2 separate regions of the Homo sapiens genome follow, and region 1 is linked to region 2. Evidence: fine-mapped QTL for protein levels in blood plasma. Region 2 holds a variant in brackets. A gene starts in the other region. All regions are shown on their forward strands. Region 1 holds the start of TFPI2 (tissue factor pathway inhibitor 2). Region 2 overlaps TSPYL1 (TSPY like 1).

What was found. PIP is the chance, under the fine-mapping model, that this variant and not a neighbour inherited with it causes the effect. Protein levels are from antibody-based Olink assays in UK Biobank. Linkage for the fine-mapping came from a reference panel and not from the study's own genotypes, which makes the PIPs less certain.
Region 1: it holds the start of TFPI2, and the variant in region 2 is fine-mapped to the plasma level of the TFPI2 protein (UK Biobank, PIP above 0.99).

What each region holds. Positions count from the first base shown.
Region 1 is chr7:93,883,166-93,899,109 of GRCh38, forward strand. TFPI2 (tissue factor pathway inhibitor 2) reads right to left here and starts at 7,588. Exons shown (of 5, transcript NM_006528.4): 1 at 7,426-7,588; 2 at 6,972-7,154; 3 at 5,870-6,058; 4 at 4,096-4,266; 5 at 2,231-3,731. The coding sequence starts at 7,513. The coding sequence ends at 3,655. It overlaps TFPI2-DT (TFPI2 divergent transcript), which reads left to right and starts at 7,729. Exons shown (of 2, transcript NR_134235.1): 1 at 7,729-7,914; 2 at 10,077-10,423.
Region 2 is chr6:116,262,109-116,278,052 of GRCh38, forward strand. TSPYL1 (TSPY like 1) reads right to left here. Exons shown (of 1, transcript NM_003309.4): 1 at 12,750-15,944. It also overlaps a transcript of DSE not described here. Among named protein-coding and RNA genes, the nearest start is that of TSPYL1, 9.8 kb to the right of the region's middle. RefSeq lists an enhancer at 9,018-9,519. The variant T/TA (reference allele first, on the strand shown) is at 6,910.

The DNA.
Region 1 (15,944 bases), not on the chromosome of region 2:
TACAGACATTATTACAATATATGGACAGACATTCCATAGGATATTCTCTGATTGGATAAGATTGTTGGCTAAAAGTCTAACACGACTGTTGGGGGAGACAGCATGCACACTTGGGGGTGCTGTGATCCAGGCAATTTGGAGGCCTCCATTGCAGTTTCTATGGTTAAATATTGTGACAATGTGTGTGCACAGGGGACACATGAGTGATAGTCCAGGGTAATTTTAAAAATACTGTCTTATTAAAAGCCATCCCATTTCTATTTTGACTTTTTGTGTCACAGAATGAGACATTCCTTTTAACCACAGCTGTGATTTGCCTTCACATTGATTGTGGTAAGGAGGAATTTTCCCTTGACTGCAGAATGTCTTGTGACCACTTTATATATTTCTTAATTAAACTAACATGGCAGAGGTAATAGGGCATTAGAATAATTTTATCCAAAATATCTACTTCCTACCCATGCTGATCAAAGAGGTGCAAATGTAGGCTGAGTTGGATCCATGATCCCCTAAGAGCTTTGGCTACATGGGAGACGAAGGGAGCAAATACCAAATCCAGCTTCCCTTTGGGGTTACTAGGAGCCCCCAGAATCCTCAAAGGCTCTGAATCACTCACTCTTCACCTCCATAACACACACAAGATCCTTCTCCTATAATTATTCCCACCAAAAACAGTCATAAATTCAGGCCTTAACCAACCGTTTAATGGCATGCTGCTTTTTGTCATTGCTATCTATTATTTTTTCTTAAAGCACTGCCTCCTCTCTGCCATTTTTAAAAATTTTTATTGACTTGTATGGAGAAACCAAGGTATTTGTCCTGTAGAGTGCCCAACATTATGGATTTACTTTCCTTGGTTTCTTTTAACTTGTTCCCATATCCCCAGTATTTCTCTATAATCTGGCAATATGATAGTGATATCTACAGTCTTGACTATCTTTGGGTTTACTGTGTTTTATTTCTCCAAAAATACTTGATGGGGAGGGTGCACTTATTATTGTATCATATCAGGAAGCAAATAATGTCTATGACTAAACTATTATGGATGTCAAAATGATCTGTGAGTTCAGAGACATTAGCCTGATTTCCCATGAGACTGTCCCCAAAAACTTTTCATACAATTGTTTCAGCACCCAATGGTGAGGGATGCCTATATTCATACTTTTGTTAGGAGTATTTTCTAACATTTTAATGCATGTATTAGGTGGAATTCTATGAATGACATCCATATACTATTTTCCCTGTGGTACAGTTTTTAAAAAATAAACAAAAAAAGGATAAATGCTTTATTCTTTCTGTTAATTCATCGTTTTCAAATGAATGAGATAATGCCCTAGAAACCTCCAAAAGGTACCAAGGAGGTGAGTGTGTGTATATAATCATAAACTCAGATTTCTATATATTTATATACATTGTGGTCATTATTTGTTTTGATGGCCATATTGTCTCATTTTAGGTTAGTGGGAGCTCCTTAATATTGCTCCCGTTTTTGTGACATGATTCATTAGTCTTTGATAGCTTCCTTGATTTCTGGAGTAAGATGGCCCAAGTTTATTTTACATATTTCCTGCCCCAGACCTGGATTCAGCTATTCTCCTAAGAGCACTGGTTCTTAGGAACCAGTGAGTAATAGTATGGAGAGACCACAGTCTTGATGTTCATTGTAACTACTGCTACTGAGTTGTCATTACTTCAAGGACTTTTCAATGGAAAAGTGGGAAATACAGATTTTTTGATAGAGAAAATCAGTTATTAATTTATATGAATATTTCTAATTCCAATTTAAGTCAAAGATTTTTACTTAATTTCTTTCATTGTATACTTGTATCTCATTTTCTCTTAACACTGAAAATCCTGACTTCTAAAGAAATGTAACTACTTGTTTTCTTACAACATAGTATTCTAGATACAATAGGTTCAAAATAACACCAGTATTACCATTAACAATGAGACTACTAAATGCATTTTCACAGTGCACTAAAATCTCAGAATTCACTGCAATATAATTCATCCATGTAATAAAAAACCACTTGTAACTCCAAAACTATTCAAATAAAAAGTAATAACAAATTTAAAAATGCATTTTGAGATTTCTTCAGAATTTTTTCACCTTTATATTCCCCAAAAGACATTCTCATATTAATTTGTGAAGTCATTGAAAATAAGTATATATCTTTTGTGTAGTTTTGCCACTATTTGGTATTCAGTTGGGTTTGAATGCTTAAAGAAATGCTTTTTCTTTTTTATTTAATTTTGATTATTAATTATGTCAAATATTTACATGGTCCAAGATAAAAACTATATCACAGTTATATTTACACAAATATTATCTCCACAACTGTCCACCCCTCTGTTCTCTCCAAACCTCTATAGGTAAACATTTTTAATATCTTTAGTATCTTCTGTGATGTTTGTGTATATGTGTGTTTATTCATACTGTTCTAGGCCCTGTGTTTCTTATGTATCCTGGGAGTCAGAAGATATGCATATATAGATATTTTGCTAACTCCTCATCCATAAAATCTTCAACCAGTCCCTGACTGAAGAGTACCTGGTTTGCTTCTAGCTTTCAGCATCATTCAAAGTTCTCAGGCATATACCTATTTGTCAAAATAACTGGGATAAATTTTTAAATGAAAGATTGTTCAAGCAAAAGGTAAACGCATTTGTCATTTTGCATATTTAATTTGTAATTAAATATGTTAATCTTGCTATGAAAACATAAGAATTTAGAAAAATTGTTTTATTACAGAGAAAGAAAAAACCTATTTCATTGGTATGACCATATTTAATCAATGATAATTTACTGGTGAAATTTAAATTATTAAATTTATGCATGGTTTCTCATGCATGGTTTATATAAATAAACACCTTAAACAGTATAAACATTTGAAAAACTTTACTTTCCTTGGTTTTTTATAAGTTTAGTGGTCTCCAACCCACAATGTCTTAGGAAATAATTTAACAATAGGAAAACCCTTAAAACCATCTATCTCTATGTAAACACAAACATATACATGTGAGTGGGGATTGGTAGATAAATAGATAGAAATTGCTTTCCCAGAGGAGAACATTTCTGGCTTTAATAAATTGATTAGCTTTTTAAATCAGTCAAGAAAGTTAAGATCTTTTAAATAAATCCCCTTATTCATTCATTGTACTGCAATCTAACACAATAAAATGGGAGTAATATTTTTAAAGTGTTGTTAATCTGCGACTTTGTCTTCTTGGGACTAAAATATAATCCAACTTTTAAATGCAAAATGAGTTTTATTTGCTAGTCCTTTTTATTCTCAAATATGTTAAAAGCACATGATTATATTGTCTTATGTTGTTTCAGTTATGATCCTCTTCTGAAATCAGGAATACGACCCCAAGAAATGAGTGAGTCATATTTGCTTTTATATCTTATGCATTGCAAGAATTCAGTCTCACAAACAGTTGAACCATAAATTAAAAATGGTAGACTCACATTTGAATAGCAGCTAGTTATATATAAAAAAATCCAAATTTTTTAAAAAGTGACTTGTATTAATAAAAACTGGTGAATAAATCACCAATGATTTGTTTCCTCATGCTGTCATATTATTCTTCAGATACAACCATAAAGGCAAATAAGCCATAAAGACAAACAAGATGACATATTAAGAATGTTTAAAATTGCTTCTTCCGAATTTTCCGGATTCTACTGGCAAAGCGAAGCTTTGGCATCTTCTTTTTCTTTTTCAAAGCTAAAATCAATAAAACGACAATGAAAATCATACATCTCCAGTCTGTAGGCTCACTATAAATCACTATTTCTGATAAGGTTATTGAGCTCACTTCATCTTATTTTTAAGGACTGTGAAGTCAAAACTCATTATACACTCAGTTAATAATATTTTACCTTTAAGATATGAAGATACAGCTACCGTCTACTGCAGCTAGCCAGTAAAAGCATTTTGACAAAACTGATTAACACTACGGAGATACTTATGTAGAAGTAGTCTAGAAACAGCAATTTGCTATTAGTAAAATGGATAAATAAAAATATAATTTTTCTGATAAGTTATTTATAAAGTTTATCTAAAGGTGGAATAAGAAAACATTCACTACCTTTTGCACATGCACGTTTGCAATCCTCCCTGCTAACAAAGTTATTGTCATTCCCTCCACAGCCAGTATAGGTGAAAGCATCACAGGTTCTGTATCTTGGATTAAAATAATAGCGAGTCACATTGGCAGAGCACAGTCCCTCATCTTTTGGACTGTAGCAAAATGATGGAACTTTATAAAAAAGAGAAGAAAATTAGAAATGTTATAATACCAGAATTTTTAAATTATGGTGATTACTGAAGTAACTGAAGAAAATCTAATCCCATAGAAGCCTCAGTCTGAATCCAAAATATCATACTAAACCTTTAAAAAGATGTGCTTCAAATTGCAGGTAAGCTTACATGCTATATTTTGGTAATTCTAAATTTTTGTAAACTGGATAGAATTTCTTCTGAAGCTACATCTTTGTATCCTTTAAATGTAAAAAGAAGTTAAACCCAAATACCAGATATGGTTAGGTAAAAATGGGGTAAGTTTCAAGGACAATATGTGGCATGATTTGGTAAATTTTGTCGTGTTGGTAGTTTTGCTTTAATGTTTTTAACAGCTCTCATTCCATTATTAATCAATAATATATGCATACTAATTTCCAGGTAACCACTGGAGCAAACATTTATATGTACACAAACAAGAGAACATCCACAGTAACCATCACCACATTAACTCAAGATTTTGCATATTCAACACAGTACAGCTATAAAGCTTTATCAAATTCTCTGCCAAAGCAAGTTTTCCTTGTTTGTTGAACTTTTCAAAAATCTCTGTGTCTGGGGGAAATGCCTGTATTGTCTCCCTCTGCAAACATTAAATACTACTCAAGAGACTATCATTTCAAGGATTCAGGGGTGGTGGTGGGAGAGGTAACAAATGGATAGGACAGAAACGTGTGGAGATGTTTGTGCTGCAATTTGCAATTACTGAAGAATACAGAAATCTAACCGAAAACTTTAGAAAGAAATTTTCAAGTTTCACCATCTTAATTCTGTATATATTCCACTATCTCACATGTATAACTTATTGTGTACAAATCTGAGGTCATAACATTCATTAATGAATACTTTAATCTTTTATGCATAAATTGAGTAGCTGAGAAATAGTTCTAAAGAAACAATTCAGGGCTGGGCGTGGTGGCTTACACCTGTAATCCCAGCATTTTGGGAGGCCGAGGTGGGCAGATCATGAGGTCAGGAGATCAAGACCATCCTGGCTTACACGGTGACACCCCGTCGAAAGAAAAAAGAAAGAAAGAAAGAAAAGAAAGAAAGAAGGAAGGAAGGAAGGAAAGAAGGAAGGAAGGAAGGAAGGAAGGAAGGAAGGAAGGAAGGAAAGAGAAAGAAAGAAAGAAAGAGAAAAAGAAAGGAGAGAAAGGAAGGAAGGAGAGAAAGAAAGAGAAAGAGAAAGAAGAAAAAAAAAAAAATTAGCTGGGCATGGTGGCGGGCGCCTGTAGTCCCAGCTACTCAGGAGGCTGAGGCAGGAGAATCGCTTGAACCCGGGAGGCAGAGGTTGCAGAGAGCCGAGATTGTGCCACTGCACTCCAGCCTGGGCAACAGGGCGAGAGTCCGTCTCAAAAACAACAAATCAGAAGAGGCAGAAAGCAAAAATTTGAATCATGGCTTTGTCACTTTCCAGTCCTAAGAACTTGACAAGTCACTAACTTGTCAAGTAATGTGAAATCATGAAAATGCACATGTTAATTTCGCATCAAATTGAGTTTTTTCCACCCAAATGTCTTTTCAAAAAAGTGAAATAGAAATACCATAAAAATCGTATTTACTTTTCTTTGGTGCGCAGAAGCCCATACAAGTAGCTTCATCTGGAAACCTGTTCTCAATCCGGTTCCGGTGACACCCACCGGAAAAGAATTTTTCACATGTCATGGAACTTAGATTAAAGAAATACTTTTCTGTGGACCCCTCACACTGGTCGTCCACACTCACTTGCAGCCGGCAAACTTTGGGAACTTCTAGGAAAAGGAGGGTAATAGAACAATGTTAGTCAAAAGTAGCCTTCTTATTAAACCATCACTGTATTTTCAGCAACATTTTGTGGGGGGAGAGAAGTTGTATTAGTGTTGGGATAGTAAATACCCAGAATACTCCCATGAATCCAGATATTTACTTTTTTTTTTTCTAACAGTGTATTCAGAGCTGACTCAGCTGTGATGTATCTTTCAAGTTCAGTAGAAAGACTCTCTGTTTTCTCTGGGTGTTCTCTGATTGTACATATGCAGTGAATCAAAGCTTATTCACATGAATACGCATTTTCCCCTGGCTCAGTTCCTTGAATGGAAAAGCCCCATGTTCTCTTACAGGCCTTAACCGATATAATTTAAAAATTAAAAATAAATTAAAATATAACAGTATTATGAATCTCCACCATGTCCCGCAACTAATCCAACACATGTTTGGGTATCGGGACAAAAGTAGAGTTATATAATGAGCTAAGTCACACTTCAATAATAAAATCCACTAAAAATATTTCAGATTGATGGATAATCGACAGAAGGAAATGATGTACTCCAGGAGAGATAAAAATCATAGGTTTGGAATTAATGAAAAATACAGAGAAGCACTTACGTTGTACCTAACACGTTATTCTCTTGCATTTATTATACCCCATGGTGAGGGAACAAATCTTTCCCTGAGTCCGCACAGGCACTGAATTATGATCAATGTCAGTTGGGAGACAGGAAATGTGTTAGTGGTTGTAAATTTGTGATTACTTTTAAGAAACTGAAAACCATGAGGTTTGCTTAACACTTGAGAAAACCCAGGCTAAAACTTCCTGTAGAAAGCGAGACGTGGGAAACTGGCGAAGCTGCTACCAGCCGCCGGCGCAAGGAGCGCGAGAGTCCTGGGTGCGCGCAGGGCACTTACTTTCTATCCTCCAGCAAGCATCGTCGCAAGCCTCCCAGGTGTAGAAATTGTTGGCGTTGCCCTCGCAGCCCCCGTACAGGAACTGGCGGCAGCTCTGCGTGTACCTGTCGTAGTAGTAACGGAGAAGTAGGGCCCGGCAGGGTCCGTAGTCTAGGGGCAGGAGACAGATCTCCGCGTTATTTCCTGAAGAAGGGGCAGAAGGAGAGCAAAAGAGAGGGAAAGTGGTCAGGCGTAGCTCCTAGGAGGAAAGAACATCCCGGGGAGTTCTGTCCCCTTCCGAGCGGAGGGGCCTCTGCAGAGAAAGTGCAAACTTGGGAGCGAGTCCCCCCTGCCAGCGGAGCGCGCGGCAGGGACCTGGAGAAAGCGAGGCTTGGAGGGCGCCTACACGGGGCCCCATGGCCCGCTGCGCCCTCTCCGCCGGTTGGGGAGAGAAGCTCCTGGAGCGGCCAGATACCTGTTGGCTCCTGAGCAGCATCGCCCAGTGCAGCCTCCGTCAGGAAAAGCAGCAGAATCGACAGCCCCAGGGGGCGAGCGGGGTCCATGGTGCAGGGGGTCGGGCGGCCCGCTGGGCAAGGCGTCCGAGAAAGCGCCTGGCGGGAGGAGGTGCGCGGCTTTCTGCTCCAGGCGGCCCGGGTGCCCGCTTTATGCGGGGCGAGCGTCCGGCCGACCCCCGCCGGGGCGGAGCCTGAGGGGTGGCTGATTCATGCACGGGGACTGTCACCCCGCCGCCCCCGCGCTGCAAACTGTGTAAGAGGGAGAGGAATTCCCCGCCAAGTTGAAAAGTTGAACCTGCCTCCCAAACTTTCTCCTGTAGTCCAGACGGGGACGCCCTGAGGGAGCGTTTGTGTCAGTAATGGGAAATCTGCAAGCTAGACGGAAATGACCTGCTAGTGATTGCGCTGTAAAGAAGCCGGAATCCACCTCTTGAAGGCATGAAGTTCAGGTATTTGAAAGGCTGGTGGAGAGAAAGTGCGGAGTTCTTGGGTCAGAGCGGAGCGGGATTCGTTGCAATGGACCTTCAGATTAGATTAGAAATGTAAATAAGTGTATATTTATATTTATACACACAGATTTCAATCGAGTTCTAATTTACATTTAATACAGGCTTATAATATATCGTAGGTGGACAGTTTGATAAATTTTGACAACTGTGTAGCCACCAATAAAGAATTAGAACATTTTGGCTGGGCGCGGTAGCTCGCGCCTGTAATCCCAGCACTTTGGGAGGCCAAGGCGGGTGGATCACCTGAAATCAGGAGTTCGAGACTAGCCTGGCCAACATGGCGAAACCCCGTCTCTATTAAAAACACAAAAAATTAGCCGGGCGTGGTGGCGGGCACCTGTAGTCCCAGCCCCTCGGGAGGCTGAGGCAGGAGAATGGCTTGAACCCAGGAGGCGGAGGCTGCAGTGAGCCCAGATGGCGCCACTGCACTCCAGTCTGGGCGGCAGAGTGGAACTCCGTCTCGAAACGAAGAAAAAGAAGAAGAAGAAGAAAAAAAAAAGAGTTAGAACATTTCCATCACTCCAGAAAGCTCCTGCAGACTTTTTCCTAAATCAATCCTTCCATCCTTAGGCCAGGGGCAAACACTCTTCTCATTTCGATTACCATAGATTAGATTTGCCTATTCTTGAATTTCATATAAACGGAATTATAAAGTATTCACTGTGTAGTATTTCTTTCTCACACTTCCTGTTTTTGAGATACGCCCAGGTCACTGCATCAATAGTCTGTTTCTTTTAATTCCTGCGTAGTCCAAGGTATGAATTTACCAAAACGTATGAATATCCCACAATGTATAAATATGTTGCTGTGTGTATCAATAGTCTGTTCCTTTAAATCATTGAGTAATATTCTAATATATCACAAATGTCTTATTACTGGAATTTGTGTTGTTTCTAGTTTGTTTGGGGGCTCTTATGAAAAAAGCTGCTTTGTGTGGACCTGCAATTTTTATTACTCTTGGATAAAATACTTAGAAATGTTAGACACTGCCAAAGGATTTTTTCAAGATGATTGTACCATTTTACACCCCAACCAAGCATGTATGAAGCTATGTTTTTGTATGTATCTATGTTTTTGGAGAAGAACCATAGCAGCCCAGAGAGATAGCCTTGGGGAGTTCTGAAGATTTGACCAGATCAGTGTATTCCCACACATTTCCTAATGTCAGTGCATCCATTAAAGTTCCCTGTTCCTTTGACATATTAGCTTGTGATCCACTTTTTTTTTTAATACAAACAATTACCTACAGTGAAATTTTACATAAAATATTAAAGATATTTTTGAAGACATTTTAATATACTTGTCTTCCCTTCCCCTTTTCTCTTGTTGTATTCAACATTCTCAAGTAAATAATTATTCTTGACTTCTGAGGATACTGGGGGTAGTTTACAGAAGTTCTCTTTCAAGTTTTCAGGAAGCCCTGAAAAGTATAGGACACACTTGCTCAAAGTGGGTTAATAATCTGAGGTATTTTGCACATTATATCCTTGTGCCAGTTTTCAGTCATTCTGATGTCATGTTACAAGGTCACAGTCCTAGGAAAACCAGCCTGATCTGGAAATGCTGTCAGCTTTGATTAGCAGATGTCTATGATTAAGAATGATAGTTGAAACTATAAGGATAAATGTTTAATTATCACCTCTCCAGTAGGGAAAAATAAATGGGATGGGGATGCTTTGTATAGTTAACTGATTTCTGTGATGTAAATGTGCTCACTAAGGTCAATTTCAAGCTGCCACTGCAGAATCACTGAATGCCGAGGTGGGAAAAGATCTCCAAGAGCCAGAGCTCCCCATGGCCAAAATCTGTGTGAGCTGGCTCTAATGCACCAACCACTGAGACAGACAGCCAGTTTTGGAATGACACATTCAGAGTAAAGTCAGATTAGACCCTCCCAGTTCCTTCAAAATATTATTAGGGGAGGGAATTTTACCACTCATTTACCGAGAATCATATTCAGGAGAAAAGTTGACTCAACTTCAAACTTACCTATATCTATCTTCTGAATAAAATTAAATATATCTTTAGACTAAAATAAAATTCAAGGACTGATACTCAGTTTTCATGGAGCACTGACTACTGCCATTTCTCTTTGTTCTCAGGTGCTGGACACTTTTTGATTGTCTTTCGCTCATACAAAAAAAAAAATGAACCACTGGACACAATGGCTTCTGCTAGTAATCCCAACACTTTGGGAGGCTGAGACAGGAGGATCGCTTGAGGCCAGGAGTCAGAGACAAACCTGGGCAACATAGTGTGATTCCATCTTTACAAAAAAAAAAATTTTAACTTAGCTGGGCATGGTTGTGTACACCTGTAGTCCCAGCTATATGGGAGGTTGAGATGGAAGGATTGGTTAAGCCCAGGAGTTTGAATTTGCAGTGAACTATGGTCGTGCCACAGCACTCCAGCCTGGATGACAGAGTGAGACTCTGAATCTGACTAAAAAGAAAAAAAAAAAAAGATTAGCCCTTTTGTATCAAGACAGACATTTTGGGAAATTGCATCGTGCCATGGAAAAATAGAGTTGGAATTCAGAGGATACCTGGATTTTATTCCTTGCTACATTGGACAAGTTACTTAAAACTCTCTGAGCCTCAGTTTCCTTTTCTAATAGACATAATAACTCTACCTCGCAGATGTGTTATGAGGATTAAATGGAAAATGCCTATGCATTCAAAGATATTGTTTTAGCCCCTCACACAATGGCACAAACTTCATCCAGATCATCCCATATCCTACTTCCCATTGAGAGCCTTGGCACACAATTTTGAGATGGAGCATCAAACTCCCATCAGGAAACAGAGCAACATGAAATGGCCTTATAGAATTAAAGCCCATGTCCTTGCTCCTGTCAGCTCTTCTCTTAACTAAGCTCAGAGACCACCTCTCTGCCCATGAAGTTGTCACACTTTCTGGTAGTCTCTTCTAGGGAAATGAGCTTCAAGGGGATTTCAGAGCAGAATCCTCAGCCCACTCAGGGCTGCTGTATAAGGCATGTAGTGGAAATGGGAGGGGGGCAAAAACAGGCCTCTCACCCTTCTGTGGTGTGGTCTGTAGATGCAGGTTGGAATCAGTCCCGAGAGATGCTCTAGAAATGCTGGTTTCCTTCTACTTTTCTATGCCAAACAGGGTGCATCCTTAAAACCTCTATGACCACAGATGGAGAAAGGAGAATTAAAGAAGTGGAATTGGCAGAAGTTTGAGATTACTAACCCAGGTTATTACAAAAAAAGTATTCCTCTTAATTGCATAAATAATTGAGTATTTTTATATCCATGAAAAAGACATCTTCCAATATAAGGGTAATCTGAATTTCCTGGAGACTACTTTGACGTTACTGAATTTACATTTAGAATATTTTGGAAGGAGCAACATGACCACCACAATCAGCCTCCAAAGGGATGTCATAGCACTTCTATCTCCTTAATCCAGTGTCTAGCCCAAAATGCTGCCTCAAGGCTGAGGAAAGTAATTCCTTTGTCCAAAGTCAACAGGAAGTGCAAGGCTAGAGATAACTGGGAAAAACAGTCATCCAGATTGATTTGTCATTGCTACACCAATTGACAGTTAAATTGTCTGTGGCTAAAGACAAAGGCTCAAAATAGTCTGGAGTTCTGTAAAAATAAGGCATGGAGTTGTAATTTGAATGCTGAATGGAACTATAAGTATGTTCACTTTACACAAGTGTGAACTGAGATCTAGAAAGGTTAAGCATCTGGTCATGTTTACCTGCCATGGTTGTTGGCAGACCTGAGACTAGAATCCACAGTTCTGGATTCTTAGTCCTATATTCTTTCTATCACACCTAGACCTAAGTTCTTTCTACCATACCAAGACCTTAAAGCAGAATATGAAATACCAGAATTTAAAAATGCAAAAGCTGCAGTGAGTCCAGGAGCGCCTCTGCATGTGTCAGATTGCTGCCTCTGATCTTTCTCACCACCACACCCCTGGACCCCACAACAAATGAAGTTGATTTTGACCTGTTTAGCCCCTCCCATGCCTTGAGTATGATACTGTATCCTCTGAGAGCCCTGCCGTCTCGGTAGGTGAACCAAGAATTTAAGAAATGGACTGTGGCAGATGGTCTTCCTCTCTCTCAGACACCTTAGAGAGAGGTAGCATGTCTGGCTTATGAGTGAATGATGAGAATTAATTGAGCCCAGTGATTTGGGGATACATATTATGTAACATAGGTATTTAAGGAGTTACACTGATAACTCCTTAATAAACAAAGACAGTTTTTGCTGCCTCTTAGTTTAAGCCCTGCCAAAATAAAACTTGAAATGAGTCCAGCTGGCACTAATGAGTTTACACATCTGCTAAGAAAGATAGTTAATCTCTTCTGAGCAGTAAATGGTCATGAGGGTTTTGCTAAAGTTTAAGCAACTCCTTCACCAACTAGGTATTTTTCTAACCAGCTGGGCCATGTAAGAAACATTTATTCTAATGCACCCTCTGTCAGGCACAGAGTGCATTTGAGAGTGCTATATAATAAGATGAAGCCACATGAAAGGATGGGGTATCCTCTGTGCCTAATTTTATGAATCCCCTTCCCCCTAGAAAGAAAGAGATAATGAGGGTATATAACGTATCTCTTACTGTGTTCATTCCTTCATTAATCTACTTTAAAGGGAGCTGATTAAATGTTTGAAGTGTGACAAACTTTATGCTAGACATTTGGGATACAAATATGAGGGACCTCATAACATAATAGGGTAGATGAATGAACACTGTATAACCCAGTTACATTACAATGTTCTTAGTACAACATCAAAAATATGTACTAGGTTGTATAGGATTATAGAGGAGGAAGTAAATAAAAGGTAGGCAAAGCTCAATTCCAAATAAAATCCACTCTATGCAAACATACCTGACACTATATCTTCTAGGCCTATGCAATACAGAGACTCATTCCTTCATCTATTTGTTTTGGTTGGCTATTTTAGGTGCTGTGGTTGTAACAAAGTATTGCCTTCTGCTAGAGGAGCAGAATCTCAGAAACCACTTTTCTCTACTTCCTGGATGTACATTCCCTCAAGTGTCATTATGTCTACTTGCGATGCAGACCATCTTTTCTCTCACTCAGATTGCTACATCTTTAACTGTGTATGGCATCCAGAAGATTATGGCAAATTTTAGATGATTTTTATCCGAGACCTCCCAACTCAGTGCTGCCTCACCACCTAGCCAAAATTCTAGCCTTGGTTACTAAGCCTCTGGCACATCAAGAGTGGAGAAAGGAAGAGGAATGTTCCCCTAATCCCTGTATATCATGTGGAAATCTCCTTGGCAATCACAATACTAGTGGACATAACAGTGAAAGTTTGCATTATGCCTTGAATTTATTAGCTCATTAAATCCCGCACAATAACGACTTGAGGGAGATATGTTACTCTCCCTACTCTGCAATGAGAAAGCTGAAACTTTTGATAGATATATGACTTTCCCAAAGCTATTCAGTTAGCACAGGCAGTCTAAATCCTGATCCCCTGGTCTCACTGACTGTATACACAGTCTTTTTTTCCACATTAACAGAGGCCAAAGTCAAGCTTATTATATATACTTTCATGACCCTGGTTCAGTACCTGGACAACGCTGTATCAGTTTTCTTTTCTATGCAAACATAAAGTTCATAATTCATTCATAGGGCAAACAGATAGCTACAATTTAAATACATTGCCATAATGCTCTAAGAAGAACAGCTGCCAAAACTGATAATCAGATTAGAGGATTGAGAAATTTAATCACTAAAGTCCTCATTTTCACGGTTATATTTAGCAGAAAGTAATGGACCTTGACCTTTCAAATGTAAAGACACATTTTCTTTCAAATATATTGTCTTTTTATAAAGTGGCCAAAATCTCGTGTTAGTTATACATTGATTACTGCAGTGCCATATGCTCTCCAAATGCTCATTTTTTCTGGCTTACGTTGAAAAGCTTTTGTATCTTAAATCACACATGAGGGACAATCTGCCAGTTGGGGCAGGAAGAGGCAATAGCTGAAGTTTGAAAGGAACACACATCTCCTAGGACTCTCACTATGTGTTTTCTCTTATTGACTATTAGCTGAGGAAAAACTGAGTGGAGCTGAAAAGTTTACATTAGAAGAGAGTTGAATATGTTAACCTCGACTACATATTCTGAACCAGCCAGGGAAGGGTGAGTTAGTTGTTTCTGTTGGTCAACTGAATCTCAGGTATCTTTGGTCTTCCTTTCTCTTACAATGGAAGTAATGTTCAGGACCTATCTGAGACCAGTCCCTTGTCTACTGCTCTTCATCCTTTTTTCTCTTGTTTTCTCAATGGCTTTACTCCTTCCTCTCTTCAACAGCATCAGCTCTGCCCCCTCTTACTCTTTGGCAAAGACACCCAGATTTTAATAATTTCCATCTGGAATGCTTTGTCTCTGACTTTTCAACCCAAAGTTAAAATTTATATTTGACTCTATATCCTTCTCCTGTTAGTGTTGCCACTTTACTGCTCCCTTTTCTAGCCAAATTTATCAAAAATTTTACCTCTACTCTCTTCCTCCACTTCCTCATCTCCTGTTTTTCCCAGATCACTCCAATTAAACTTCCTTTTGGGAAGAGGAAGAACAGGAAGTGCTATTGTCAAGAGCAAACTTGACACGTGCTACTAGACCTCTCAATATATGACACCCAAAGCAACTGTCCTTTAAAATCACCCAACATCACATTTTCCATTAACATCTTATCTAAATTCTTTTTAGTATTTGACAAATACTTCCTCGTTCTTTAAATGTTTTCTCTCAGTCTTCATAACACCACATTCTTTTGTTTGTTTCCTGCTTTGTTGACTGCTCCTTCTCAATCAATCTGTCCTTTTCTGGCTAACCATTAAAGGCTAGGTGACTCAAGGCTCAACCCTGAGAATTCTTTTCTAACCATATTATTTTCTGATTTCATTTCAAATACATATACATATAAACCTTGCACGCACATATACACATGCACATACATACGCATGTATTTGTGTGTGGTCTTGATCTTTTCTCAAAATTTCAGACATTCATGTCTATTTAGTATCTCCACTTGAATGTGTAATAGAAACTCAAACATTTTATGTCCTAAACTGAAGTCTTTTTTATATATCCCCAGTCTTCCTCCTTTCTGTAAATGACCCTTCTACTTAGATTCTCAAGGCAAAATCTCTGGAGTCATTCTTGAGAGCTACCACTGCTTAATTATGCAATTCATCAACAGTCCTTTCAATTCTACCTCCAAATCACTTTTTTTTTTTTTTTAAATACAGAGTTTCGCTCTTGTTTTCCAGGCTAGAGTGCAATGGCGCAATCTCAGCTCACTGCAACCTCTGCCTCCTTGGTTCAAGCGATTCTCCTGCCTCAACCTCCCAAGCAGTGGGGATTACAGGCACCTACCACCATGCCCAGCTAATTTTTGTATTTTTAGTAGAGACAGGGTTTCGCCATGTTAGCCAGTCTGGTCTCAAACTCCTGACCTCAGGTGATCTACCCACTTCAACCTCCCAAAGTGCTGGGATGACAGCCAAATCACATTTTTAATCTGCTCATGTCTCTTTATAGCCACAACAGCCAATGTAGTTCAAGTCTGCAATTTCTGAGGAACCATTACCTAAGCTCCTTGTTTTCACCTTTGTTTCCCATTTAACCCCACACAGAACGTGGAGTACCTTTAGTATATCAAACAATTAAAAAAATGCATGTTTTACTTGTCTGATCCTCTCACTGTTACATAAGCTCTGTGGGAGCATAAAGCTTACCTGTGTTATTTACCACTATATCACAGAGCCAAGAATGAGACCTGGAAAGTAGGCTCTCATGAACATCTGTGAAATAAACCAATGACTTTCTATTACCACTATCCTTTTTCTTTACAAATGTCTTGAAAACTCAAATGGCACAGTGGAAACAGAGAAACAGAGTAGTTCTGGGAAAGAAAGTGAGTTGTCATAGAATATATTT
Region 2 (15,944 bases):
TAGAATAAGTTAGGGAGGATTCCCTCCTTTTCATTTTTTTTGGAATAATTTCAGTAGGGATGATACTAGTTCTTCTTTGTACATCTGGTAGAATTCAGCTGTAAATCTGTCTGGTCCTGGGGTTTCTGTTGTTGTTGTTGTTGTTGTTTTGGTTGGTAGGCTTTTTATTACTGATTACATTTCAGAACTCAATATTGGTCTGTTCCTGGATTCAGTTTCTTCCTAGTTAAGTCTTAGGAGGTTGTATGTATCCAGGAATTTATCCATTTCTTCCAGATTTTCTACTTTATGAGCATAGAGGTGTTCATAATATTCTCTGATGGTTGTTTGTATTTCTGTAGGATCAGTGGTAATATCCTCCTTGTCACTTCTGATTGTGTTTATTTGAATCCTCTCTCTTTTTATCTTTATTAGTCTAGCTAATGGTCTGTTTTATTAATGTTTTCAGAAAACCAGCTCCTGGATTCGTTGATCTTTGAAATTTTTTGTGTGTCTAAATCTCCTTCAGTTCAGCCCTGATTTGGTTATTTCATGTCTTTTGCATGCTTTAGGATTTGTTTGCTCCTGGTTCTCTATTTCTTCTAGTTGTGATATTAGGTTTTTAACTTAAGATCTTTCTAACTTTTTGATGTGGGAATTTAGTGCTATAAATTTCCTTCTTAACATTGCCTTAGCTGTGTCCCAGAGATTCTGGTATGTTGTCTCTTTATTCTGATTAGTTTCAAAGAACTTCTTGATTTTTGCCTTAATTTCATTATTTACTCAAAAGTCATTCAGGAGCAGGTTATTCAATTTCCATGTAACTGTATGGTTTTGAGTGAATTTCTTTGTCTTGATTTCTAATTTGATTTTGCTGTGGTTCAAGAGATTTTTTGTTATAATTTCAGTTCTTTGGCATTTGCTGATGAGTGTTTTACTTCCAATTATGTGATCAATTTTAGAGTATATGCCATGTGGGAATGAGAAGAATGTATATTCTGCTATTTTGGGGTGGAGAGTTCTGTAGATGTCTATCAGGTTCATTTGATTCAGTGCTGAGTTCAGGTCCTAAATATCTTTGTTAATTTTCTGCCTCAACAATCTAATATTGTCAGTGGTGTGTTAAAGTCTCCCGCTATTAATGTGTAGGAGTCTACGTCTCTTTGAAGGGATCTAAGAACTTGCTTTATGAATCTGGGTGCTCCTGTGTTGGGTGCATAGTTAGGTCTTCTTATTGAACTGAATACTGTTTTGCCATTATGTAATGCCCTTCTTTGTCTTTTTTTTTTTTATCTTTGTTGGTTTAAAGCCTATTTTGTCAGAAGCTAGGATTGCAACCCTTGCTTTTTTCTGTTTTCCATTTGCTTGGTGAATTTTCTCCATCCCTTTATTTTGAGCCTATATATGTCATTGCATGTGAGATGGGTCTCTTGAAGACAGCATACCAATAAGTCTTGATTCTTTATCCAGCTTACCATTCTGTGTCTTTTAATTGGGGCATTTAGGCCATTTACATTCAAGGTTAGTAATGACGTGTGTGGATTTGATCCTGTCATCATGAAGCTGGCTGGTCATTTTGCAGACTTGTTTATGTGGTTGCTTTATAATGTCCCTAATCTGTGTACTTCAGTGTGTTTTTGTAGTGGTCAGTAATGATCTTTCCTTTCCACATTTAGTGCTTCCTTCAGGGGCTCTTGTAAAGCAGATCAGGTGGTAACAAATTTGGCATTTGCTTGTCTGAAAAGGATCTTATTTATCCTTTGCTTATGATGCTTAGTTTGGCTGGATATGAAATTCTGGGTGGAAAATTCTTTTAAGAATGTTGAACATTGGCCCTCAATGTCTTCTGGCTTGTAGGATTTCCACTAAGAAGTCCACCATAAGTCTGAGGGGCTTCCCTTTGTAGGCAATCTGCCCTTTCTCTCTAGCCACCTTTGACATTTTTCTTTCATTTCAGCCTTGGAGAATATGATGATTATGTGTCTTGGGGATGATCTTGTGAAGTATCTTACTGGGGTTCCCTTTATTTCCTGTATTTGAATGTTGGCCTCTCTCACTAGGTTGTGGAAGTTCTCATGGATAATATCCTGAAATATGTTTTCCCAGTTGGTTCCATTCTCCTCATCTCTTTAAGGGACACCAATGAGTTGTAGATTTGGTCTCTTTACATAATCCCATATTTCTCAGAGGTTTTGCTCATTCCTTTTCATTCTTTTTTCTCTATTCTTGTCTGACTAGCCAGTCTTCAATCTCTGAGAGTGTTTCCTCTGCTTGGTCTATTCTACTATTAATACCCATGATTGCATTATGAAATTCTTGTAGTGTGTTTTTCAGCTCTATCAGATCGGCTACAGTCTTTTCTATACTGGCTATTTTGTCTGTCAGCTCTTGCATTGTTTTATCATTATTTTCAGCTTCCTTGGATTGGGTTTCAATGTACTCTGGTAGCTGAATGGTCTTCATTCCTATCCATATTCTGAATGTCATTTAAGCCATCTCAGCCCAGTTCAGAACCCTTACTGGAGATGTGAGCCCATCCTTTGGAGGAAATAAGGCACTTTGGCTTTTTGAGTTGTCAGGGTTCTTGTGCTGATTTTTTTCTTATCTTTGTGGTCTTGTGTTCCTTCAATCTTTGAGGTTGCTGACCTTTGGATGGTTTTTCTTTTATCCTATTATATTTGATGAACTTGAGCATTTGTGGTGTAAGGTGGACTCAGCCAACTGGCTGTGTTTCTGGAAGATTTTTATGGGGCCAGCACTCAGCTCCCAAGTCCTACACTTCAAGCTGTAATTCTGGGGGAACTTATATTAGGCCCTGACTTTGTTTTCTGGCTCCTCAAGGTTAGGAATTCACTGTGTTGGGGGAACTGAGGTGCTCCCGGACCACTGTTCACTACACTTTGATGGGTGGTATCAGCCAAAGTGTTTCATATTGCAGCAACAGGGGGATCTGTCTTCGTTCACATGTGCCAGCAGCAGTGGTAGTAACAGCTGCAGCAGAGTGCTAGCAGGTGCCATGCTAGCAGGCGCCATGCTAGCAGGCATTCACCACAGTGGCAGAGGAAATGCAGCTGCAGGGGTGGGGAGTGGAAGGAGTGGCCCCAGATGGTGACTGTGTGCACAGTCATGCTGGAGGTGGTGTTGACTCAGGGGTGGGTCACTGATGGGCACAGGTCTGGGTGCCTTTTCTGTGCCCTGCAAGCAGGAGTGATTGCTCAGGGCAGGGAAGGATCTGCTGTTCTCTGTGTAGTGTTAGTGCAAGGGTGGGGTGCTGGCAGGGACTGGGCTGGCTGGCTCTGTGCCCACCAAGGCTCTGTCTACAATGGCAGTCAGCAGGGGGAGTGGAGTAGACAGCACTCCCACATGCTGGTGGGGCAGTGAAAGCAGAATCTGCCCATACAGACGTGCTAGCAAAGTGATGTGGGGAGTTGGTGTGAGCCCAGGGGAAGCTGCATTATGAGGAGAGAGCATGCAGGCTGGCACATGGCTGTAGTGGCCACCCCACTGGAGCTCCCTGCTGGTTAAGCATGGTCCACCAGCACAGAAGGTATGGTGTGGGCCCCCAGGGAACCCGAGACCACCCTGCAAGCAGGAATGGCCAGGCTGGGGCCCCAGGAGAGGCCAGCAAATCAAGGGGTGCTCAAGTCAGACCTGCCCAGTCTGATGGACAAGACCACTCTGCAGAGTTCAGATCTGACAGTTCCCCTAGGGTTAACATCTCCTATGTGAGCAAGTCAAGCCTAGAGGGGACAGCCTTCCCTAGTTGTGCTCTGCTACAGATGCTCCCACATCAAACCCTCTGGGTTCTGCATCAGATGGCTTGCTGCCCCTACCCCTTCTCTAATTAGCTCTCTCTGCCACCTTGAGTGTCCATGGTGGTCAAGGGGTTCCCTTCTGCCAGGGTTCCAGAGGCCGCGTGAGAGTAGGTTGCTCCTTGCCAGTTCAACTCACCCATTCCCTTGGAGCCAGTGGAAGCCAGGAATGAGTCCTGGTGTGCAGTAGCCCCATGCAGGGTTCCCAGCTTTCTCCCCTTTTAACCCAGTTTCTTTTTCCACACTTTAACATCTCTGAAATGACTATCCATGATATAATCAATGGCATCTTACAACTGCTACCAGCAGAACAGCAGTCATGGTATACTAGTCATCCAGGAGGTGTGAACTTGGCTGTTAGTCTTGCCGACATTATTGGACAACTGCAACCTCTTGACGTTTCAATCAGTAAACTCTTTAAGAGCCATTTGAGGAAGGAAAATAAGCCTTATTTGTTCCCTGAAAATATTCTGTTGATATCTTCTGGTAAAGTCAAGAAAGTGCCAGCATCAAAACTTGCAGAATGAGTACTGGAGGCTTAGGGGAAAAAATCTCAGAAGCATACTGTTATTAGTAGTAGAACATTCTACTAAGATATGTTGTCATCATCAAAATTATTCAAGAATTTTGAATAGTAATTAAGATTACTATTATAAATGGGAAAATAATTAGAATAGTGAAACTAGTTTATTTCACTCATAATTTACTTTGTATATATACCTATGAGTGATATATGATAAAACTACATTTTTAAAATCAAAAGGTCTTTCAATATGTATACAATAAAAATCCTAAGAATTAGAAAGCTTTGTGTCAGAGTTTAATTGAAAGTTATTTTCTTTCTTTTTCTTACTTTCTTTCTTAGTGTTAACTAATGGCTTATTTTACAATCAATACTTTTAGAGCAGATGAAATAAATCCTTGTAAAAATACAGCACATATCTAAAAAGTGCAAATTTTTTGTTTTCATATGTGAAATACTCATGTGCCACATAATGATGTTTCATCAAATGATGGATCACATATCCAACAGTAAAATTATGATGGAGCTGAAAATTTCCTATGGCTTAGTGTCATCACAGCCTGAGTAATGCTGTAGCCCTCATAAGGTCATAGTATAACTCATTACTCATGTATTGGTGGTAATGCTGGTATAAACAAACCTACTACACTGCTAATCATATAAAAGTATAGCACATACAATTAGGTACAGTACATAATACTTGATAAAACATAAATGACTATGTTACTGGCTTATGTATTTACTATACTATATGTGATTGTAGAGGATACTCTTTCTACTTATTAAAAAGAAAACTTAACTGTAAAATAGCCTCAGGCAGATCCTTCAGGTGGTATTCCAGAAGAAGGCATTTTTATCACAGAAGATGACAACTCAGTATGTGTTACTGCCTCTGAAGACCTTCTATTGGGACAAGATGTTGAGGTAGAAGACAGTGATATTGATAATCGGGAGCATGGCTATGCCTAGGCTAATGTGTGTGTTTGTGTCTTCATTTTTAACAAAAAAGTTTAAAAAGTTGAAAAAAAAGAAAAAATATTAGAAAAAAGCTTATAAATTAAAGATATAAATATTTTTGTACAGCTGTACAATATTTGTGTTCTAAGCTAAGTGTCATTATAAAAGACTCAAAAAGTTTTAAAAAGTTAAAACATAAAGTAAAAAAGTTACAGTAAGCTAAGGTTAATTTATTATTGGAGAAAGAAAAATTTTTTTATAAACTTAGTGTCCCAAAGTGTACAATGTTTATAAAATGTACAATAGCATATTAGTCCATTTTCACACTGCTATAAAGAACTGCCTGAGACTGGGTAATTTATAAAGAAAAGAGGTTTAATTGACTGACAGTTCCGTATGCCTGAGGAGCCCTCAGGAAACTTACAATCATGACAGAAGGTGAAGGGGAAGCAAGGCACATCTAACCATGACAAAGCTTGAGAGAGAGAGAGAGAGAGCAAGCCACATACTTTTAAACCCCCAGATCTCATGAGAGCTCACTATAAAAAGAACAGTAAGGAGGAAGTCTGCCCCCATGATTCAGTCACCTCCCACCAGGCCCCTCTGACATGTAAGGATTACAATTTGAGATGAGATTTGGGTGGGGACACAGAGCCAAACCGTATCAAGTAGTGTACAGTAATGTCCTAGACCTTCACATGCGCTTACCACTCACTCACTGACTCACCCAGATCAACTTCCAGTCCTACAGGCTCCATTAATGGTAAGTGTCCTATACAGGTATACCATTTTAAAATATTTTATGCCATCTTTTTACAGTAGTTTTTCTATGTAGATATGTTAGTTACACAACATATGTTAGATATGTTTAGTTACACAAATACTTGCCATTGTGTTCCTATTGCTTATAGAATTCAGTACAGTAATATGCTGCACAGGCTTGTAGCCTAGGAGCAATAGACTATACCATAGAGCCTACATGTGTAGTAGGCTATAGCATTTAGGTTTGTGTAAGTATATTGTATGATGTTTGCACAATGATGAAATTGCCTAATGACACATTTCTCAGAATGTCTCATTGTTAAGTGAAACATGACTGAACTGCTATGTTCTAGACTTAAAAAATAATGAATTTTTCATCTACATGAATGTTTTGAGCTGGAAAATTATTTTATATAGGGCACTATCCCTCACATTCACGATGTCTAGCATCCCTAATGCCCTTAATGAATACCAGCTGCAGCCCTATTCATCGTAATAACCAAAATTACTACTGAAAATTTCCCAAATATCCCCTAGAGGGAGGTATGCATATACATTGAGAATCAAGTTTTCTAAATGCCTGTAGCTGTGATATTCCCATTCCTGGTCACTAGAGGGAGGAAGTAGTCTTTAGGATGATAGTACGATTCTGTTTTGTCTGCCCTCAAAGTTCAAGTTTAAGCTGATATAGATCAGCTTGGCAAAAATAGATCATATTTCAGTAAAATAACTGTGGCATAGTTTCTCACATATGTTTGGTACTCTTTATTATTACAATGGAATCACATTTCTATTTTATTTAGGCTATCACTGTTACAAAAGTAATATTTTCTCAGGCTAATTATCTAGTTATGATCACTGCCTGTGATAATACTT[T/TA]AAAAAAAAAAAGAAAAAAAAAAACCTCATATGCTCCTGCTTTCACCAGTCTTAAGAGAAACCAGAGACAAAGGCTCTGACCTGAATGACCCCACACCTTTGTATGCTGGTTAAAGATGCACCCTTTGAAATCAAACAGATCTGACGTCAAGTCCCAGTTCTGTTACTTACTAGCTGTTTAATTTAGGCAAGTCACTTCAGCTCTCTAAGCCACAATTTACTCATATACAAAATGAATATAATAAAACAACTTACAGAATTATCATGAAGGTGAAATGAGATATCTGTGAAGTGTTTTTCACAATATGCTTTCAATAAATAGAAGCTGACTTGCTCATTTTTATTATTTTTATGCTAAGAATTACATTAAATAAACAATATTGTAGGCAGTATAAAATCAATGTCAAATTCTATTATGAAACTGTAATTGTATAAAAGTTGAGAAACAAAAGTCATCCATGTAAAATAAGTGAAAGGTTTGTGGAAGAAAAGAAGAGTTGAATTGGACCAAGTAGATTGGATACCATTTGAATAATCTGAGGAAGTCATGAAACACTAGCACATAGTAATAATGCTTGTCCACTATGTTACAGTTAATTCCTAATGATTCTAGACATATGGTATTTTGGGCTGATAGGGAAAACAACCCTTTTTGCTCTAACTAAAGTGCTTTACCACATTCTTCCACATATCACTTTAAAGACTTTATAAAATATATTAAGAAAAAACTAGATGCATGAAATACATACTTTTAATAGCTGACTTTAAGCAGACTTGGTTGCTCAAAGTCACATTTTCTGTGAGGAACATACAGTCTGTATTTCAAACCAAGTTTGACCTGAAAATCTTTGCTTATAATAGACTAACACATTCAGTTCATCAATATTGGATCAAGACTGGAACACAGCCACTCTCTGAAATCACATTCCAATTAAACATCTACCATGCTAAGAATGTAAGATATAAAGATGAAGAAGACACAGTCTTCTGCTCTGATAGAGTTATACTTTAGTAAAGAAGAGCTAAATACAAATAAATAGAGAGTAAAAAATTTCTGGGAAAAGAAAACAATTCTGGAAAAACAAGGTACTGAAATATGATTACACCTTGTAAACATTCTATTTCTGGGAGCTGCAAGGCCAAAAATAAGCAAGCCCCACTCTTGCCTAATATACTCAGTGCTCAATGCTCACCTTGAAATTACATTTCCCTCATTGTTGATGAAATTGCAGAGGAGTTATCAAAACTGACCCAAGAGAAGTTTGGCCATTAAGCAAAATGGTTAACAACAAGAGCATGTTGTACCATGCACCTGTTTTTAAAGCCATCTGAACACAACTCTTAATTGTATTGTCCAAGGTTAAGTTGGAGTTTGGTGAAGAGGATGATAATTAAGTACTACATGCCTCTTATAAGTAATCGCTCTATTGACTAAACCTCAATAAATATACATTATTTATTTACTAGTGATATCAATAGTTCTTTACATCTCAGCAGCCAAACTCCAGAAGAATATTAAAATATTTGAACTGCTTTGGTCCATTCTATTTCTCTGGAAAGTACAACTAAGCAATTTAATTCAGGCAGTAGATATAAAAAATTACATTTTTAAAGACAGGATACAGTTATCTGATAGGATTTGGAGACCTTCTATTGTTTAACATAAACATATCCCTTTTAAAAGCTACTTGTGAATGAATTAGGAATAACTTTCAACTAAGATCAAGCTATTCAAACTTAATTAGGATTTTAGATATATTTTTATGGCAAATTTAGTTACAAGCTGCTTCAATATGGTGCAAAGTGTCTTAGCTGGAAATGAGAAACCCTAATTGAATGCAGCCCATGTTACCTTCGTCTTGGATAATACACTTCTCTTTCCTGAGCCCCTATTTCCCTATCCATTAAATGGAGATAGTGACACTGCAACTACAAAATGAGAGCATATATGGAAGTTACTGATATATCTAATAATTTGTTGAGATTGTGAAGACAGAGATATGTACTTGATGCAGAATTAGATATCCAAAGCCCAAATTGTGACCCCACAGGGTAGGGAACTTATTTGTGATTAATAATATAGGTAAATGTCTTGTTTTGCTTTATTTTGTTTTTATAATGGTAACAATTAAGGAAACTGAATCAACTGGAGATGAAGCAGAAGCAGCAGCTGAGTTTAGGACAATGGTTCCCAAATGATTGATAGCAGGCATTAGAATCACTTGGCACATTGGTTAAAACCGGTTTCTAGGCCTCACCTTCAGAGTTCTGTTTCAGTAGCTCATGGGTGGGGTTCGAAAATCTGCATTTCTAACAAGATCCAGGTGGTGCAGATACTGCTGGTCTGGAGAACACTCTTTATGATCCACAGCTTTAGGGTAATGGAAAGGAGCAGTTGGAGCTGAAGAAGTCAGAGAAAAGCATCTTGTAAGCATCTAAATGGTCAGAAATGGAAAAGGAAGCTCAGAGAGATTCTTGAGAGGGCCCCAGGGAATGTCAATCCTATTTACAGGACAATATGTCCTAAGCAGACTTCACTTCAATGACCAGAGGATGACAGACCTCAGTTTGTAAACTAAGAGAATCTTGAGAAAGGTCAATTTTGGCCTGGAATTGAAAGAGAAATAAGTTTTTAAAAAGGAATTTCATTATTAGAATTATAAATAAAATCATGCAACAGTAAGAACTCACAAATAAGATCTTGTAAGTAGAGTCAGCAATTTTTACCACCAAGGAAGAGAAGCCAAAAGACTGGAGATGGGCAAATGAAGTTCTATTTTTTAAATTATCAATAATATTTTAAAATCTATTTATTGAGGTATAATTTACTTACACTAAAATGCATAAATCTTAAATATATACTTGGACAAGTTTTGAAAAGTGGATACACCTGTGTTATCACCCAACTCAAGATATGGAGCACTATTACCCCTGCAAATGTCCTCAAGCTTTACCGTTACTCCCCTCAACCTTGAGGCTACCATTCCTGGGATTTCTATCACCATAAAAAAGTTTTCTATGCTAGTGAATTTCATATACATGGAATCATATAATATATATTCCTTTGACATCTTTCACTTAACATGTCTCTGAGATTCATCCATGTTGATGATCAATAGGTTGTTCCTCTTTATTGTTGAGTGGTGTTCCATTGTATGAATATACCATAATTTGTTCATTCACTCACTTGTTGGTGAACATTTGGGCTGTTTCTAGTTTGGGGCTGTTATAAATAAAACTGCTATGACCATTCCTGTGCTACATGTAAATTATACTTTATTAAAGAAAACAACAAATACCAAGTATCTATTAAAACATCTTTGGACACTTTAAAAGAGCAAATAGTGATCAACAGAAGTAAAGCATATCACTAAGAAATCATTTCCTTTTTTGGCAAGGGAATTTCAAAGACAGACGACACCTGCTGTTATGAATTTTAAAGACCTCTTTTGTTGAATTCAGGTTAATTCCATTCTGCAAGACCACAGGGGGGAAACTATGAAATAGATATACTGAAACTCTACGATATACCAGGCTCTTTGCAATAGCTGGATGTTTATAAGGTGGCAAATTTGAATCAATTTGACAAAACTGGGAAGGGAGTATGTATTCCCTAACTTAAGGAGTTCAAGAAAAGGTAAGCCATGATTCTCAAACTCAGCTGCACTTTAGGCTGTAATTTAATTGGTTCAGGGTAGAGTCTTGGCATCAGTATTTTTTGAAAGCTCAAAGCTATATATAATGATCAGCCAGGTTTGAGAACCATGAAGCTAGATGACTATTTGTCTGAATGTAAATTAAATGAGAAATTAAAATTGAGAGGAAGACAAATGGAAATTTTAATTGATTGCATATTATATGCTAGACATGATGCTTGCTGTCTAACCTCTATATTATAACTATATTAATACTTGAAATCTCTTAGCACAGTGTCAGGCGCAAAGTAAGCTCTCAAATGTTTCTGTTGTTATCTTCTCTGTAACCTTATAATGCAGTCTCCAAATGCATCCTAAAACATTAGCTTATACTGCAAGTTTTATCATCCCTACATTATGGATAAGGAAACCAAGATTCAGAGTAGTTTATTTTGGGAAATGCAATACATGGTAATTGTAAAACCGGGATTTAATCCTAATTTAAAGCTAGTATGCCTTCTCTGCCCATCAGGTCATATCTAAGACATATAGGTGTTCACAAAAATTAGTAACTTACTTAAATGACCCTTTCCTTTTTAATTGAACCATTTCCTTTTACCTGTTCTCAAAGAAATTACCTTAAATACAAATCCTAAAAAAAGTGAAGCCAAAAAGTAGACATCCACATTTTTCCTAATGTGGCTTGATAGAAACTCTTCTATAGGTCTTGACAACCTCTGAGGTCAGAGAGAATGGATTAAGATGGCCCTTCAGAGCTCAAAGCACTTAACATGGAGAAAGTACTGCTTCCAAGTAAAACACCTCCCATAATAATAAATGCATAGAGAGCATACCTGTCACTTCTATATAGTCTAGGACTTTAATTATATAATAATGTTGAAGGAAAGGAAGTCAGTCCTGAGGGGGATGGTCAACTCCTCTCAGCCAGGCTGGTCCTCTCTGAGTTTGCTTGTGTGCAGTAGATGTTTTGAATGTGTGTATTTGCTGCAGAAAAAAAGGAAACATTCAAGGAACGGTACCCCCCTCAATGAGCCTGAGTTCCTCAAGGGCAAAGACAACCTTTACTATCCCATTCAATCCTTACTTATGCTAGTATTCAATAAACAACTACTGCAAGATTACAATTACAGACCACTAATTTTCAAAAAGTATGTTTTTTTGTTTTTTTTTTTTTTTGAGACGAAGTCTCTCTTGTCCCCAGGCTGGAGTGCCATGGCTCAATCTTGGCTCACTGCAGCCTCCACCTCTTGGGTTCAAGCGATTCTCCTGCCTCAGCCTCCCGAGTAGCTGGAATTACAGGCGCCTGCCACCACACCCAGCTAATTTTTGTAATTTTAGTAGAGACGGGGTTTCACCATGTTGGCCAGGCTGGTCTCGAACTCCTGACCTCAGGTGATCCAGCCGCCTCGGCCTCCCAAAGTGCTGGGATTTCAGGCGTGAGCCACCCTGCCCGGCTGCTTTTTCAAGTAGTACGCGTTCATTGAACTGACTTAATGCAGAGCTAGACTCAGATATTTTCCTTTTCTGTTGCTAGCCAACTGTTAAAATACGACTGAAAATATTTTCTGAACATCATGTACATTTGTAAACTAAAAATAGAGCATTTGGCCGGGCACAGTGGCTCACGCCTGTAATCCCAGCATTTTGGGAGGCCGAGGCAGGCACATCGCCTGAGGTCGGGAGTTTGAGACCAGCGTGACCAACATGGAGAAACCCCATCTCTCTACCAAAAACACAAAATTAGCCGGGCGTGGTGGCGCATGCCTATAATCCCAGCTACTGGGGAGGCTGAGGCAGGAGAATCGCTTGAACCCAGGAGGCAGAGGTTGCGGTGAGCGGAAGCTTGCCATGAGCCGAGATGGTGCCATTGCACTCCAGCCTGAGCAACAAGAGCAAAACTCTGTCTCAAAAAAAAAAAAAAGAGCATTTTACTTTAGAAAATATGCATATATTGGTCTTAAAAGTCACTAAAAATTAAACCAATATAACTGTGTCAATTTGGCATCAAAATCTACCCTGCCTATATCAAGAAAGTGTTGCACAGTACATTTTGCAAAATATTCAGTGCATCTTAAGTACTCAAGAACAGTTCATTAAAGAAATTTTACTCACCTTCTTTTTACCCATTGGCCTTGAATTTAAGCAAGATAACCCTTATCTTAGTCACAAGAAGCTTCAGGAGGAGAAAGTATTAACATGTTTAATTTTTACAGATATTTTATATGCTTTCAGATATTCCTCAGGAAGTCGAGACATGCTGTCCTATGTAATTTTAGATTTACTAGTAGCCACATTAAACAATGGCAAAATGAGGATAATTAATTTTTCAATATATTTTAACACAATGTCAAAAATATTTCAACATGCAATCAATATGAAAAAAATTGAGATATTTTAACATTTTTCTTTCCATACTGAGTCTTCAAAATCCAGTGTGAATTTTATATTTATAGATCTCAATTCAGACTAGCCACATTTCAAGTGCTCAATAGCCACTGGTGGCTAAAAGTTACTGTATTGGACAACACACATCTAGAGTCTAACCCCCTTCTATCTCCAGTATAATCACCTTAAAATGTACAAAGTATATAAAAGGTAACCCAAAATTAAGTAGTGCTCTGTTAAAATGCAAGTGAAAGATTTAATGTTGAAAGTGTTTAGACGTTTTCTAATGACTAAAAGGGGAAATAGTTATTTAGGAATGGCATTGCAAATCTTTTTGACATTTTCCCATTTGCTCATTAAATCTTTCTGAGAACTAGGTTATTTTGTTCTTTTTCCTCCATCTGAGTTTTGTCATTCAATATTTATCTGCTGACAACTATGCAAAACATTATGCTAGATGGGCTGGGTGCGGTGGCTCACGCCTGTAATCCCAGCACTTTGGGAGGCTGAGGTGGGCTGATCACGAGGTCAGGAGATGGAGACCATCCTGGCTAACATGGTGAAACCCCATCTCTACTAAAAATACAAAAAATTAGCCGGGCGTGGTAGCACGTGCCTGTAGTCCCAGCTACTCGGGAGGCTGATGCTGGAGAACTGCTTGAAACCGGGAGGCGGAAGTTGCAGTGAGCCGAGATCGCGCCACTTGCGCTCCAGCCTGGGCAAGAGTGGGACTCTATCTCAAAAAAAAAAAAAAAAAATGCTAGATGCAATGAACCATGTAAAATGCACTGCATCTCCACTTTCACAAAGTTTCCAAACTACTGAGAGGAAAAGAGTGAACATGGGAAAAACATGAAAATATAATCTCTGTATTTTATTTTACTGTATCACTCTGTTAATTCTTTGTTTGCTTATCAGTCCTTCCCCAGTTCCCCAAAGAAGGGAATGGACTTTATCTTCTTACTCTTTTTCTCTATTTGTGGAATTCACTGTAATGAATAATTATGTTAATTTTCTAGAACAGAGGTCCCTCCAAAGTACACTAAGTGCATAAAGAAACATTTATCTCCTCTATGGGGAACAGAAAGACTTTGGCAGAGGAATTACCAAGGGCAGGCCTTGAAGGATTTGACAGAAGAGAACAGTGAGGAAGTTTAAAGAAAAAAAGGAAGTTTTTACAGATGAGAAAGTATGAAAATAGAGGAGTACATCACATATGATAGGTACTCCCTGCATACAAGTTAATAAAAAGAAGAGCCTGAATAACCTGAGAATATAATTTATGGAGACAGAAATGGAGGATTTGAGCAACTGAAGGGGAGGTTGTGCTGCATAAACTACATGGAAAAAAGTGATTGAGTAAGCAGTTGCAACTGCTAACGTTTTAAGGCAAACTACCTTGGAAGGTACCAAACATACCGTGCCCTGCTTTCTTCTCTTTGGGATAATGTCTATTGTGTCCATTTAAGGACTTTAATGATTCTGTAATTTTTAGTTAACATCAATTTAAGGACTTTAATGATTTTAATCCATTAAGAACTTTAATGATTTTAATCCATTAAGAACTTTAATGGATTAAAGGACTTTAATGATTCCATAATTTTTAATTAATATGAACAACTTCATTCAAGCATTACATTTATGGGTAAGGTGAAAAATAAGAAATCTAGCAGAACAACATGCTTTTATTTTACCATCATGCATAAAAAGGAAGACAAATATGCCAATGGTACACTTCCAATTTGTCAGAGCAATTTCACAGTATTTAAGCAATTTAGGAAAAAAGATATATCACTTACTAAGTTGTTACCAGGGAAAATTATCATGTAAGACAATCAATTAAACCATACTTTTGTAGATTATTTTTCCATGAAGGCAATTTGACAAGCCTAACAAAGACCAAGTTGTTCAAACTATGTTTCTAGGAATATAGTTTAACAGAAACAAGAACAAGTTGAAAACTGTTATGACTATTCATATGTCTCTATATTGTACAGGCAAGTAAGACTGTTGTTCTTCCAAATGTTCCCAATTGAAATCAAAAGAATATCTGTACAGCTCAATTTTCACAATAAGTTTAGAATCAGAAAAAAAAATTTTACTAAATCCTAATGAAATAACAATCTTCCACATAAATTAGGTCACAAAACAAGTAAGAAAGCATTCAAAGTTGCGCTGTCTTTCTTTAAAGAACCCTTGTCTAGGCAACATATTTAACACTTTAACCCCTTCAATTCTCCCTGAAAAGTATTTTTCCATTCATCATCATTGGGGAGTAAGTACTCCTTCCTCGAAAGCTCTTAACGACAGCACAGTCTTCACTCTAGGCCCAATTTTTACCTGGCCCATGCCTCTAGCCTTTTGTTCAGTTTCTCCTGCTTAGGGCACCTTTCATCCCATCTAGATGTGTCTCTCTTTAACTATTCTAGGAGTTGATAAAAGGGCTAGGAAGTAGGAAGTTGGGAAGAAGGGGAGGGGCGTAAGAGCTCTAGCACTCTATTTTACAGGCCAACTTCTTTGCCTCTGAAAATGACAGAGCCAAAATGAAATAAAAACCTTGCTTTTACAAATGTTTCTGAGCTATCACTTTTTTAAGAGAGGATTGGGAGGCTAAGGAGGGCGGATCACGAGATCGGGGTTCGAGACCAGCCTGGCCAGCATGGTGAAACCCCGTCTCTACTAAAAATATAAAAATTAGCCGGGCGTGGCGGCGCGCGCCTGTAGTCCCAGCTACTCGGGAGGCTGAGGCAGGAGAATCGCTTGAACCCGGGAGGTGGAGGTTGCAGTGAGCCGAGATCGCGCCACTGCACTCCAACCTGGGCGACAGAGCAAGACTCCGTCCTCCGTCTCAAAAAAAAAAAAAAAAAAAAAAAAAAGGAAAACAGGGAGAGAGAGGGACCTTGGCAGGAGCCAATGTAGGGCAGGTAGCAATAGAAAGTGACTAGAGGTGAAGGAAGAGCAATGAAGTACCATAAATCACACAGAACAAGTGGC